Homo sapiens: one gene and its partner. The protein of the gene in region 1 purifies or fractionates together with the protein of each later gene. This does not show direct contact. Each region holds a gene or a part of one and is shown on either strand. Other genes may lie near its edges.

Evidence for each region.
Region 2: the proteins of EXPH5 (region 1) and RAB27A purify together in Homo sapiens (affinity purification with western blotting; 2 studies listed by BioGRID and IntAct, with this or other methods). This does not show direct contact.

What each region holds. Positions count from the first base shown.
Region 1 is NC_000011.10:108,513,587-108,521,277, forward strand, and holds part of EXPH5 (exophilin-5), read right to left. Parts: intron 4,788-7,691; coding exon 4,649-4,787; intron 4,138-4,648; exon of another isoform or gene 3,773-4,137; intron 1,784-3,772; exon of another isoform or gene 1,725-1,783; intron 1,290-1,724; coding exon 1-1,289. UniProt on the Homo sapiens protein: May act as Rab effector protein and play a role in vesicle trafficking.
Region 2 is NC_000015.10:55,223,446-55,231,136, reverse strand, and holds part of RAB27A (ras-related protein Rab-27A), read left to right. Parts: intron 1-650; coding exon 651-736; intron 737-2,424; coding exon 2,425-2,528; intron 2,529-7,124; coding exon 7,125-7,248; intron 7,249-7,691. UniProt on the Homo sapiens protein: Small GTPase which cycles between active GTP-bound and inactive GDP-bound states. In its active state, binds to a variety of effector proteins to regulate homeostasis of late endocytic pathway, including endosomal positioning, maturation and secretion.

The DNA of each region.
Region 1 (7,691 bases):
ATTCCTTCTGTCATCAGAAATCTGGGAAAAGGAAGTTTTGAATGAGGATGCTAGAGTCTGAGCAATTCCAAATGAGGAAGCTTCTTTGTTTATATGTACTTCTACAGGAGAACTGTCCTGTTGACTTACCAACTCACTAGATTTGACGTGATAGCTTGAACCAGTCATGGAGCAAACATTTGGTGTGCCAAAATGAGGAGTCAACTGGGTCTCATTACCATGTGATACCACCATGCTATCCAGTGTGGATCTCTGAAAATCAAACTGCCAAGGATGTGGCTCTTCTTGGCCTCTGGAAACATCTGTTCCATAACCAGAAGAAAATGATTCCCAGTGTTCAGAAGAAACATTATGGCCATGAATGGCTGATACACTATTTGCTTCCATGGAAATCATTTCAAAGTCTCTGTCAGAAGAACTGAATGATTTCCTGCTTCGATGAAAGTCAGACCAGAAAGAATGTCCTTTCTCTTGGCCCCAAAAAGGACCTTGTCCAAATCTCCTCTGTTCTCCGCTTCGTCCAAAGGTATTGCTGAAGAAAGATCTGGTAAATGTGTTGCTTTGATGGTAGAATGGCATGTTCTCTGAGTTCTCAAAAGTGTCGGGACTCATTGCATTCTCCATGGGAGCATTTAAACTAACACGTTGGTAAACATTCTGTGAATGGTACGATTCATATCTCTTATTCTCCTGAAAACCCCTGGGATACACATACTTGTCAGCGGGATCAATTTCCATTGGTGATGGTGCCCTCAGGAACTCTTCCTGGTTCTCCCTGTCTCTAGAGGAATCTGATCTGTTCCATATGATGGATGATAAAGGAGTTCTCTTTGGACTCTGCTGGTGCCTTGGTGGTATAAACCCACTCTTGCTCTGAGTTGTGGCTGGAAAATGTAAGCTTCTTGCTGTGAAATGCCCTGTGGCTGGTAAGGCCGACCGTTGCCTGCTGTCAAAACACAGCGAAGTACTGCCAAAAGTATTCTTTTGCACATAATCTTCTTTAAAGACTCTGGGCTCCCTTGTCCTATACATATCATAAATTGTGCTTGTCCTAGGAGAAAAGGTTTTAAAACCTTCCCTAGGAGTTCCTGGTCTTAGGATGTCATAGATAGACATATTGGAAGTTTCATTATAGTGTTTTTTGTGCCTTTCTGTGATATTACCATGTCTGTTACCACTGGAATAAAAGTGACCGAACTGTGTTCTTGATCCATAGTTGAGGGGTGTTCTGGTATTCACTGAGCTTGCAGACTGTTCCTGAGCCAATTTGCTATCCAAGTCATCTAAAACTGAAAAGAGAATGTGAATCAACCTTTTTCTGTATGTTTTTACAGTTTAATAATAATTTGAGTTATTGAAGGCTCCTTTTCAAGAAACATAATCATTTATAATTTTATTTTTATCATATTATCATGTTATAACATTAATTTTGATTATATTTTTAAGATAGCCTGACTTTTATAAGACTATAGTGAAAATTTCTTTCCTACTTTTTCAAATCACTTTTTTTCAAAGTAAACCTTCCATTAACGCCGTAAGGAAATTGAACTATATTCTTCTAACAATGAATTTTAATCATGTTTTTTTTTAGTGCATCTAAAGTGTATTGAGTTTTTCTAAGATATGGACCAGTAATAAAATGGAATTAATAATGCAGACATTGAATAACTAGACAATTGTTAGTATTATTAAGCCTTGTCTTTCTGTTTCTTTCATGTCACTAGGTTGCTACAATAATTCCAGCTGTGTATACCTCCTGGGATCATAATAGAAATGAACCTCTGTAAGTAGCATATGATTTCTAGGTTGTACTGTTAAGAAAACAGTATTACCACTAAAAGCTTAGCACCTAATTTATGAACATACTTAGTTGGATATATAATATTATTAAATGATATGCCAATGGTAGATTTTTTTTTCTGGAAAAATTAATACCCATTAACACTCCTATAAAACAGCACTTTCTATGTGTCAGGCAGAGTCCTAAACGCTTAATATATTAACTCACTAAGTCGTCACACAAACTTAGAAGGTTGGTCCTATTACTATTCTCATTCTATAATGAGGAAACTGATGCAAGAAGAGATTAAGCAAATTCCTAAGATCACACAGCACTGGGATTTGAACCCAGACAGTCTGTTTCCTGAATCCATGCATACAACCACTGTACAATGCAACCTCTGTGCCATAAAAGCTCACTTTTGGGCCGGGCACGGTGGCTCATGCCTGTAATCCCAGCACTTTGGGAGGCCGAGGCGGGCGGATCACGAGGTCAGGAGATTGAGACCATCCTGGCTAACATGGTGAAACCCCGTCTCCACTAAAAATACAAAAAATTAGCCGGGCGTGGTGGCGGGCGCCTGTAGTCTCAGCTACTCGGGAGGCTGAGGCAGGAGAATGGCGTGAACCCGGGAGGCAGAGCTTGCAGTGAGCCAAGATGGCGCCACTGCACTCCAGCCTGGGCGAAAGAGCGAGACTCCGTCTCAAAAAAAAAAAAAAAAAACCAGAAAAAAAAACTCACTTTTCATATTTTGCTCTTTATGAACCATACAGATGATTTTACTGTGAGACGAGCTCATAGTTTTACAAAGACGTGAAGTTGCTGTTGTCAAATAATGATGACTTTTCTCTCGGTAGCAAAGTCAGGGAGTGGTGTCAAAGTCAGTGCCCAGGGGCCCCCTTACGATAACTGAAGACCTAGACCAAGCCCAGACCCAGGGCTCATGCTCTCTAGGACCACAGCCTCTGTGATCTTAGACAAGCCACAGCATCCTTTTGGTGACACAGTTGGCTTTTCTTTGAATTGTATCCATTTAATTGTACTTGACATGTTTTCCTCAATAAAAACCCATTAGATTTTGAATAGAATCATAATCTTTTGAGGTGTGTAGACTCTCTAAGACCCACTCTATAATAGATATAGTTTACTATATTCATGTTCAATAAATACAAATAAATTACAAATTTTATTTCAACTGTATAATGACAGGAAATGTAAGTGTCTGAGCACACATAAGTGAAATGTACATGCAACATGCCAATTAAGTTAGGGCAGATGCTAAAGGGATTTAAAAAAATCTGTTCTGGATTTTTCCCTATCCTATTTTATTTGCAAGTTGGTGTTATTAAGTTTGTACAACCAAAAGAAAAACTGATCTTGAACATTAAGGATATGTAATTAAGGAATTCTTTTAGGGAATTATCTGTGAATGTTTTAGTGAAAAATATTTATTTACCCCTAGGACCTGAAGTAATTTGTTCCCTATAGCCACAATAAAATAATCAAGCAATGCTGAAGTATAAGGTGGGGCAAAAAACAAAACAAAACAACTGCATAATGAATAAAAATCTATCTTTAAAACAAATTATAATGAAAATCTCTTTGATACCCATTCTCCCTTTCAAGCTGTTTATGTTTTTCTTTCCCCTTAAAGTCTTGGTTGACTACAAGAGCAGAATGTATTTAGAACAGAAAATACAGAAAAGTATAACAATATAAGTAAAATCGCCAGGAATTCTACCTAGAGGTAACCATTCTTAACATCCCCATGACAAGATTTTAAATTAAAGCCACTTAGAATCCCAGATTAACAATGCTGTTTACTCATCACTCCTGACATCAGAAAAATTCCTGTTCTGCTTCTCTACATTAGTTTCAGAAAGGCCACATTATTATTATTTTTTCATTATTTTTTCATTCCATAAACAGTAGCTCTCCTCTTTCAACAAAACCTTCATTTTGGAACAAAGATTTTCCTCTGTTCTCTGCCAGGAAGCATCTTACTGAAGAAGGCCCCTACGTTGACTGTCCAGCTGACTGTCTCTACCCGACTGCTGTCCCACACAATATGGGCCAGGCGATGGTATTGCCTTTGCAAACTAAATGAAGTTCCTCAAAGTGAAGCTGGTGGCGACTTCAGAGTTAACTTTTCAAATGGCCGGGCTTATATAGAATAACCTTTGTAAAAGTAAACTATGATCATATAATAAGATACATGTGCATTTGGAACGCCACTGCTTTTGGAACCTGTCTCAGTTTTTATCATCATACAAGGTTAATTGTCTAATGTCAATTAGATTTTATCACAGTGCATTTGGGTCCTAATCTGGAACAATAAAAGTCTATTAAACAGCAAACTTTGTAGATGTATTTCCTAAAGATGTATTTCCTTTTTACCTGAGGTTAATTTTTTTTTTCTGCTTGCTCTGTCACCCAGGCTGGAGTGCAGTGGCATGATCTCGGCTCATTGCAACCTCCGCCTCCCAGGTTCAAGCACTTCTCCTGCCTCAGCCTCCCAAGTAGCTGAGATTACAGGTGCGTGCCACCATGCCTAGCTAATTTTTGTATTTTCAGTAGAGATGGGGTCTCAAACTCCTGACCCCTAAGGTTAAATATTAAACATTATTACTACTCCATATATTTATCAGTCCATGATTCAAGAATATTTGCTTAGATTATATTTAATCATAAGATTCTTAATACTTGTGTTAATAACATATCAGCATCCTCTTCAAATAAGCTAAACATGAGGATGTAAAAAATAAAGTACAGTGTTTCATATGTTTTGAGTAGTTTGATACAAACTAGTTATTGTTTACTTCCTTTAGTTATCAGTAGTTGCAAAGGCAATTTAATGCATGAACTTACCTTGGAAAAACTCATTCTCCAGCAGTGAAGCATCCCACGGTGGAGGCATGCCACTCTCCTCCCTCATGACTGCTGGCTTTGGGACAAATGTACTGTCAACTAGATGATTTTCCAGAGGTGAATTGTATATTTTTGCCTGCTAATTTTAAAGCAGAGAACACAATATTATTTCTGAGCCTTCACCAGTCAAAATACTCACACGCTCCCACCAAACTGTCCCAAGCTTAAAAGTATTAGTCTAAGGACTGCAAATCCATTTTTCTAATATTTATTTCTCAATTTATAATGTGTTGTTTTTGCCATTTGTAACTGACCTGCAACTTCTCTATACCTACATTAATTATTTCAGTGATAAGCCTTCAGGCAAGGTACTGAGCCTCTCTCTGCCAAGTTTCCTACGAACTTACACAGCACTGTCAGAGGCGTTTGAATCAGGGCAACTCCATCTCGAATAGGGGCTGGGTAAAATAAGGCTGAGACCTACTGGGCTGCATTCCCAGCCGGTTAAGGCATTCTAAGTCACAGGATGAGACTGGAGGTCGGCACGAGGTACAGGTCATAAAGATCTTGCTGATAAAACACGTTGCACTAACGAAGCCGGCTAAAACCCACCAATACCAAGATGGCAACAAGACTGACCTCTCTGGTCGTCCTAACTGCTACACTCCTGCCAGCACCATGACAGTTTCAAATGGCATGGCAACATCAGGAAGTTACTCTATATGGGCTAAAAAGGGGAGGCATGAATAACCCACCCCTTGTTTAGCATAATACCATCAAAAAATAATCATAAAAATGGGCAACCAGCAACCCTTGGGGCTGCTCTATGAAGTAGCCATTCTTTTATTCCTTTACTTTCTTAATAAACTTGCTTTCACTTTACGGACTCGCCCTGAATTCTTTCTTGTGCGAGATCCAAGAACCCTCTCTTGGGGTCTGGATCCAGTATTACTTTTCTGGTAATATCTTCCTGGCGACCACGGAAGGGCCAATACTAAGGAAACCTTCCAACCAAAGGCTAACTTTGGGTAAGTGGTGGGGTGTGGTAACAGCATTACACAGATCTTAGTGGGGGTTCCTTGCAGAGAGGAAAGAAATCGACCCCTCTTGAGTTTGGAGTGCTGTCTCCATGGCTCCAATGGCTTGGATTTTGGATTTCCTAACGTTGTACCTATTTTTTCAAGACCCTGTTAGCTAGAACTCGTAGTGGACCTTAAGATTTGTGAACTTGGCCGCGTGCAGTGGCGCACACCTGTAATCCCCGCACTTTGAGAGGCTGAGGTAGGCAGATCACTTGAGGCCAGGAGTTCGAAACCAGCCTGGCCAAAATGGTGAAACCACTGTCTCTACTAAAAATACAAAAATTAGCTGGGTGTGGTGGCGAGTGCCTGTAATCCCAGCTACTCCAGAGGCTGGGCCAGGAGAATAGCTTGAACTCGGAAGGCGGAAGTTGTAGTGAGCTAAAATCATGCCACTGCACACCAGCCTGGGCGACAGAGTGAGACTCTGTCTTGGAAAAAAAGAAAAAAAGAAAAAAAAACCCACAAAAAACCAAAAATACAAAAATTAGCTGGACATGGTGGCAGATGTCTGTAATCCCAGCTACCTGGGAGGGCTGAGGCAGGAGAATCGCTTGAACCCGGGAGGCGGAGGTTGTAGTGAGCTAAGATCGTGCCACTGCACTCCAGGCTGGGAGACAGAGGGAGACTCTGTCTCAAAAAAAAAAAAAAAAAAAAAAAAAAATTGCGAACCTGAGGATTTAGGGGGAAAAATGTGTTTCTATTAGAGGTCATCTAGAATAGGGGTCCCTGACCCCTGGGCCACAGACCGGTACTGGTCTGTGGTATGTTAGAAATCAGGCTGCACAGTGTGGGGTAAAGGGCGAGCATTACCGCCTGAGCTCCGCCTCCAGTCAGATCAGCCCTGGGATTAGGCGTTAGATTCTCACAGGATTGCGAACCCTATTGTGAACTGCACATGCGAGGGATCTAGGTTGTGCTTTCCTTATGAGAATCCAACTAATGCCTGATGATCAGAGGTGGAACAGTTTCATTCCCAAACCATCCACCACCACTTTCTGTGGAAAAGTTCTTTTCCACGAAGTGGGTCCCTGGTGCCAAAAACGGTGGGGACTGCTGATCTAGAATGGTAGAACCCCTCAGATGCCCATAATAAGCTGATCTGGTAGTTCTGCAACAAAGGCACTCAAAAGTTTGATTGTATAAATAATAAATGGCTTTAAAAAAACCTATTGCTAGTTTTTCAATGAAAGGATTTAGGAGAATGATATAGAACTAAATTTGTTTTCCTTTATTATTGTTTTATTTATTCATTTATTTATTTATTTATTTTGAGGCGGAGTCTCCCTCTGTGGCCCAGGCTGGAGTGCAGTGGCGCGATCTGGGCTCTGCACCATCCACCTCCCTGGCTCAAGCAATTCCCCTGCCTCAGCCTCCCGAGTAGCTGGGATTACAGGCGCACGCCACCATGCCTGGCTAATTTTTTTGTATTTTTAGTAGAGATGGGGTTCCACCCTATTGGCCAGACAGGTCTTGAACTCCTGACCTCAGGCAATCCTCCTGCCTCAGCCCCCCAAAGTGCTGGGATTACAGGCATGAGCCACCTCGCCCAGCTATTATTATTATCTTTGTTTACTAACAAATGTTTATCTTTATTTCATAAAATCTAATCACTGCCCTACTTTCAAGCTTTTGTCTTCATAACCTTGCAAACATTATCCACCCCATGCCTTCACTTTCTTGTGCCAAAACTCCATTTGCGTTTCCTCTGTCAAACTGGCTCTGTCACTCATGACTCCACTTTAGCTCATCCTGCACTCATCCACTTCCCTTTCCAGTCTTTATTTTCAGCTCACTCTGCTACCCAGTCCTTGCCTCTTGAATCCCTCTCCCCACCTCAAAATTTCCCTTTCTATTTGACCTTCACCACTATGTTTTGTCTCATCTTTCATGCCTAAGACCACATGTCGATCCTTTCCAAAGCTCCAACTTCTTAATTTCTCCATAACAGGTCTGTCTGATTC
Region 2 (7,691 bases), on another chromosome or scaffold:
GCAGCAACATGGATAGAGCTGGGGACCATTATCCTCAGTGAATTAATGCAGAAACAGAAAATCAAATGCCACATGCATTCTCACTTATAAGTGGGAACTAAACAATGGGTACGCATGGACATAAAGACAGAAACAGTAGACACTAGGGACTCCAAAAGGGGGAAGGGAGTGGGAGAGGGGCTGAAAAACTACTTATTGGGTACTACATTCACTGTTTGGGTGATGAATTCAATAGATGCTCAAACCCCAGCATTATGCAATCTATCTACGTAACAAGCCTGCACATGTACCCCCTGGTTAAACAAACAAAAAAGATGAGATTGGGAAAAGCCATAGAAAAGTAATATTTCCTGAAACTAGTGACCCAAGAGAACTTTGAGGAAAGGTAAACTAATTATTATATTTTATACAAGTTGTTTTGTATTCATATTTTACAATATATTTATAAGATATATATGTATATATTTCAATATAACTTATTACATTACCTGGATATAATTATTTGACATAAATACAAACATGGTTGTATTCCAGATGGCATTCTCTTTGGAATTTTAGATGCCTTTGGGATTTGTACTGAACAAAAAGGTGAGAAGGTTCGCTGGTGTTAGAAGTTCTCTTTTGTTTTCTCTTTCACTTTGCTGTTTTAGGTGTACAGAGCCAGTGGGCCGGATGGAGCCACTGGCAGAGGCCAGAGAATCCACCTGCAGTTATGGGACACAGCAGGGCAGGAGAGGTATGAGATCTTCAGTTATGTGCTCCTTACTGAAGGAAAGGGAAAAATAGTTACATTCTTCAAACAGTGACCTGAGCAGGAAAAAGCCAGCCAATTCGTTGGTTTGCACTTGAATGCTGCCAAATTAGCAGGAAATTTGTCAAGTCTGAGATGAGAATGGTGGCCTTATTTCATACAAGGTCAAGGGAGAGGTTATGACTCTTACTTGTGGACTTTTTTCTTTTCCTTCTTTTAATTTTTTTTTGCTTAGATACTTTGCTCCATTTCCTTTTGCTATTTACTCAACCACAAGAAAGTGGCCAAGTTACATGCATTATTCTTACCTGACTGTTGAAATCTAGTGGGATATCTGGTTGGAATTAATTCATGTGACCAGGGGTTACTTGACCAAAATAAGCCACATGAAATCTTGATATAAAGTTGCTTTCAGTTAGCTAGAACTTCTGTTTTCTTTCACAGCCACCTTGAAGGATTTTGTTTTTTAACTTTTTATTATGGAAAACTTCAAGGATATTCAAAAGTGGAAGGATTATATGATAAACCTATGTACCCATTACTCAGCTTCAACAATTATGAAATTGTGGCCAACAGAATTTCATTTATACCCCTTACCTCTTCTCACCCCACCCCCTTACCATATAATTTAGAAGCAAATTCCAGACACTATATTATTTCATTTTTAATACTTGTGGTAATGTAGCTCTAAAAGATAAGAGCTCTTTTTTGTTTTTTTTTTGGGCGGAGTTTCATTCTTGTTGCCCAGGCTGACGTGATCTCAGCTCACCGCAACCTCTACCTTGCTGGTTCAAGTGATTCTCCTGCCTCAGCCTCCCGATTAGCTGGGATTACAGATGTGCACCACTACACACAGCTAATTTTGTATTTTTAGTAGAGTTGGGGTTTCTCCATGTTGGTCAGGCTGGTCTCTAACTCCTGACTTCAGGTGATCTGCCTGCCTTGACCTCCCAAAGTGCTGGGATTACAGGTGTGAGCCATGGCCCCTGGCCAAGAACTCTTTTTAATAAAAACATTGATTAAAAGTATTTGAGAAAAACCTAATATTGCTGATTAGATGACAAATTCATACCAATATTTTCTTCCCTGGAGCCTGCCTGTCAGTTACAGGTTTTACATATAGGCAAAGACGAGAGGAAACTGACTGGTGATAGGGTGGGGTTGGGGGTGGGGAGAGAGAGAGAGAAGACAGGGAAGACAGAAGGATAAAGCCTTGGAAGGCAGAGTACCAAGACAGAATAAGGTCTGAGTCAAGAGATTCTTACCTTCAAGCCAAACAAATGGCTATCAGAGATAAGAGATCTCTGCATATTCTGAAATTAAAAGATCATGGAACACATTGTAATGTCAAGTCAAGCTTTCACAATAGGAAAACATACACTATATTGCTTTTGGCCAAATTAACTCATAATTGTACATAAATTCTTGGGTGAGACTAAGATCACAAGCTGGTTCTTGTCATCCCTCTCCAGCAGCCTCGGTTTTCAAATCACATGGTCTGTTAACACTTAAACTGATATAAGTGATAAATAACTATCCTATATACTTTTGAAATATCACCATGTAGCTTGTTATTGGTAAACTTTTGTAAGAGGCTGAAGGCATTGCTTGTAGTTTTATATTTCAGGAGTGGGGCCGTGGTTTAACTGACCATTCTGCTTTTATGTTCCTAGGTTTCGTAGCTTAACGACAGCGTTCTTCAGAGATGCTATGGGTTTTCTTCTACTTTTTGATCTGACAAATGAGCAAAGTTTCCTCAATGTCAGAAACTGGATAAGTAAGTGTTATTGTTCCCCAGTGTCCTGCTACACAGTCCCCTCTTATTTATAGAATGCCCTCTTATGCTCTACTTCTGTGACAAATCGTTTTGGAGGAGATCTTAGTGCAAATACTATTTTAAGGAGCAAGGTTTTTAGTTTAGGGACAAAGATAATTGAAATACTCTGCTTCTCCCTGGTACTGATAACTTTGATTTGTTGAGTACTTCCTGTGCTCCAGGTGCAAGGCAGCACTTTATGTGTGCTCTCCTCTTCAGTCTATCCCACAGAAGAGACTCTTATTCCCATTTCGTAGATGAGGAAGTAGAAGCCTAGAGAAGTTAAATCTCTAAGTATCTGCTTGTCTATTGTATGCTATCAATTCTTCTATCATCTCTGGACATTAAATGGGTATTACATAGATGCAGATAGCTTTTAAAGACTTAATGGATCATACCCCTGGCTTCATGTCTTTTCTGTGCTTAGAGTCCCCTTCTAGCTTTTAGGGTTAGAGCATCTTTCAGGAGGATTCTGCCATGGAAAACTCTACAACTGCATTGGTAAAAGTGGTCACCAGTGCAATATATGTCAACCTTTATTTTGGAGAGATTTTAACCTCCTAAATGATTGGTTCATAGCCATTTCGAATTCTGCCACTTGACTGCATAACAGCTTTCAAATGTATATTTTCCCTGTTTGGTCATGTTAGTGTAACCCTAGAGAATCTATTAGGGAAGGCTGTAATATTAAATTCTTAACATCTAAATCTTTAAAACACTGATTTAAAAAGATCTGCTACTTAAACATTACTGTTTTGGGATTATGAAAGGGTAATTGGCTGTAGTTTTGATAGTAGAAAAGCTTAGATTAAAAATGAGTTTAAAAATAATTTAGTGCACTGTGGTTTTCACATACTTTGTATCTGATCCTCACAATCACCCTGGGCAAAGATTCGGGTCAGTGTTGTGTCCTTATTTCAGGAGAAGGACATTGAGCCTTAAAAAGTAATAGACTTATCCAAGGATATGAAGCTTTGGCTTTCCTTTTTAATGGCCTTTTTTTTGCCCGTTCTCAAGTCAGTTGGCCACTAAGAGTTGAAGAGCTATTAATTACTTTAAATATGAGTTCCCCAAATATAGTAATGCTTACTGGGGCTTCACTTCGCTAGATGCCTGGCTAAGTTGCCTCATTATTTCCCTTGTAGCTGAATGACAGTGGCTGTTTATGGTCTCTTACTCTCAGCCCGTGTTCATCATCCCTCCTTTGCATCATCAGAACAAGTTCTGGGGCTTTTTAAAATCAACTATTTTATAAGGATCACTAGAGAGTGCGCATAGAATCTTAGCATCAAAAAATAACGCACCTGTTTTTCATAGGTAGACACTAAAACTCTGAGACATTAGATAAATATTGCCTATCCTGGCTAACTAGTTGGATAAAGAACAAAATTATGTGAAAATATGTATACATATGTATGTATTTTGTTTTGTTTTCCTTAGAGAGTAAAAGAATCCTTATTGCTCAGTTAGGTAAAGAACACTTATACGTATTGAAGATTTTATATATTTAATAGAAAGTATTCTCCACCCCCTACCATTTAAACAAAAAGGTGTAATGTTCAGTGTCAGAAGTGGTAATATCAAATCTTAATTAGGAATAAACATTTGTTAATTATCTGTACTTTTATTTTTTTCTTCTTCCTGTCAGCCTTTTGAGTATTACAATGATCATTCATTTCTTATCTTTTTTTTTTTTTTTTGAGATGGAGTTTCTACTCTTGTTGCCCTTGCTGGAGTGCAATGGTGCAGTCTCGGCTCACTGCAACCTCTGCCTCCTGGGTTCAAGCAATTCTCCTGCCTCAGCCTCCCGAGTAGCTGGGATTACAGGCGCACACCAACACCCCCAGCTAATTTTTGTATTTTTGTAGAGATGGGGTTTCACCCATCTCCCGGGGTTTCATCCAACTCCTGACCTCAGGTGATCCACGCGCCTCAGCCTCCCAAAGTGCTGGGATTACAGGCGTGAGCCACAGTGCCCGGCCCATTTCTTATTTTTTAATAAAAATAATAGCTTAATACACACAAATACACACTCACACACACACACACACACACACACAAATACATAAAAATCAGTGGTGAGTGCCAGAACACAGTGTTGCATTAAAGAAGTAGCTGACTCGTGGGCCCTGATTGGCCTGGGAGAGGAGAGCAGGTCTATATACCCTCCCCTTTCCCTTTGCTCCTTGCAGACCCCTCCCTCTCACTCAATCTCTCCATGCCCTCTTGAGAAGGGTGATAAAAGTCTAAAGTAAGCCCCACTCAGATGAGGAGACAGAACAGAGGCTGAGTCCTCTGGGCCTGGATTGAAATCTGAAAGGAATTTGGTAGTGTGGTAGTCACTGTCCTGTCTTCCTGGAGTTCAGAGGAGTAAGCACGTCATGCCCAGAGTCACTCTTCATCCAGTGCTAGTGTGTTTCCTAAGGAAACTTTAAAGTAGCCTACATTTCTAAACTTTCTTCTGTAGAGTCCCATAAGTGGTGCAAAAACCCAACAGTATATATTTTACATATTTTTACTTCTTTATTTTTTATTCCCATTATTCTCTCTGTCTGAAAAACCCTTTCCACACCTGCCCCCATTTTTTAACCAACTGGAGTTCTGCTTATTCTTTAAAACCTAGCAAAGATGGCCTCTGTGAGATTCTCTGTAATAAACTTAGTTGTGTTAGATGTTTTCCCTCCTTTTAACCCCTGTTACATTTTATACTGTGTATAGGGTCCTTATTACATCCATTATCAGACTGTAGTTGTTTATGTAGGTGACTTTTTTCTTAGTGAAGTTTTTAAAATAACTGATTAATTTGCTTTTTAGATAAGCACAATCTTAGTAGAAAAATTAGGAAAAATGAGACAAAAAGAAGAAATCACCAATAATCACACTTCCTAGACTACCCAAAATAAATACTGTTAACCATAATTACTGGTGATACTTACATGCTCTTCTAAATGCTTTAATATATTAACTTAGTAGTTCTCAAATGTGAATGTGCATCTCAGTCACCTGGAGGACTTTTTAAAACACAGATTTCTAGCCCCATTTCCAGCATTCCTGATTCAGTAGAGCTGGAGTGGGACCTGAGACTTGCATGTCAACAAATTCTTAGGTTATGCTAAGGCTGGTGGCTCACAGTCTTTACCTGCAGAATCACTGGATTAATTCATTTTAATCCTTACCTTGACTGTATAAAGTAAGTAGTATCATTATCACCATTTACAGATGGGGAAATTGAGGCAGTCAAATAACTTCATCAGGGTCACACAGCTAGTAAATGGCAGAGCCAGGATTCATCCCTAGGTACACTGGATCCTGAGTCTGTGCTCATAGCATGACACTGGGCATGGACCTATAACACCTTATAAGGCATTAACAGAGCACAGAGCCACTCTGGAGACCAGAAAGATAATGAGGTAACCATGAAGCAAGTCTTGAAGGAAGGTTGTGGTTAAGTATTCAGTGATGTGGGAACAGCATGTGTAACAACCTGGAGGAAAGAAAGGGCATGGCTTTTCATGAAATGGTACACAGTTTAGTCTGTCCTCTGTAGGTCTTATTACCCCAGTTGCCCCATGAGGGCAAAGAACTGTTGTGAAATTCCATGCAGAGTATCAGGCCTGTGCTAATGCTCAGTAAACACCTGCCTACTTGACTTTCTCATGATAAGATATGATGAACACTACTTCATAATGAGGAACTAAAATGTCCACACTTTTCTGGTTAACCATGATGAAAAAATAAATTAGGCCATAAACTCTGAAGTATGTCTTACTGTGAACGTTTAGGCCTTAATTTTATTCTGGGGTGTGATGGGTAAGAAATGAGGTGTTATTTTCCTACTTTGAAAGATTAAACTATTTAGCTTAGTGAAGCTCTTTGGTTTGAGTCAATTGCTTTTTATAATTGTGCCTATTTGCAGGTTTTCAGGTGAAATAAAAGCTGCGGAATAAGAATTATAGTCCTCTGCTTCCACTTGGCTCTGGTGACAGAATCACTTACTGTTTATTCTGGGTCTTTTCTTCTCATTGAAGCCTGTATCTTGTTTGTTTTAAATGAGTTGATTCTGCCCTAGGATAATAGAAAAATGTGAAAAACATTTTGGATAGAAATAGATTAGTTTGGAGAAAAACAATTCTTTTAGAAATGTCATTGCTATGGAGAAAAAAACACATAAAAACAGTTTTAAGATTAGCAGTAAACCCTAGGAACTCCTGCAACTTTCTTTTCAAATAGCCTTCATAAAAAAGAAAGGTGTTTTGTATGTGTGTGTGTGCATATGTGTGCGTGTGCACATGTGGGCCCTCACACTTGAGAGGTAGCACATTCTCCTATAAACTCTCCGATATCAATAAACTGGGGTATGTGCTTAAGAATGGTTTTATATTTCTGCCCCAACTATTCAGCTTTACAGATAAGATTACTGATGCTTTGAAAGCATTATGTCAATTCCCAATATCTATATATACATTATAGTCTTCAAAGCACTTTTGCATGTATTGTTCACTGATCATACACTTACATTATTATTTACATATATAATAAACTTTCTTATATTAATAGGCCAGCTACAGATGCATGCATATTGTGAAAACCCAGATATAGTGCTGTGTGGAAACAAGAGTGATCTGGAGGACCAGAGAGTAGTGAAAGAGGAGGAAGCCATAGCACTCGCAGAGAAATATGGGTGAGTATTTTTGTGGAGAAGTCTAGAGAAAACATTTTCAATATAAACATTAGCAGGTGAATGGTAATGAAAAAGATAAAAGTGGACAATTAAAGCAAAACCTCAGCCATAGGCCTTGGGGCATGTTGAATGTGTCCTTTTTATATGATATGATAGTAGGATCCATTGACAATGCATGTGGCAAGGGCCTCCTTCAGTGCTTTGGTCCCATTTTCTCAAACTCTTGGCATTTGCAGAGAGACAACTTTGAGTTGTCTCAGAGGCGCCTTAAGTATGTAAGGCCTTCTTTCCAAGATGCAAATAGGAGACTCCTGGGGTAAAGAAATCCTCCATGTTGAGCGAGGAAATTTCTTTTTTCATTTCTTTTCTTTTTTTTTTTTGAGACAGAGTCTCACACTGTCACCCAGGCTGGAGTGCAGTGGCACAATCTCGGCTCACTGCAA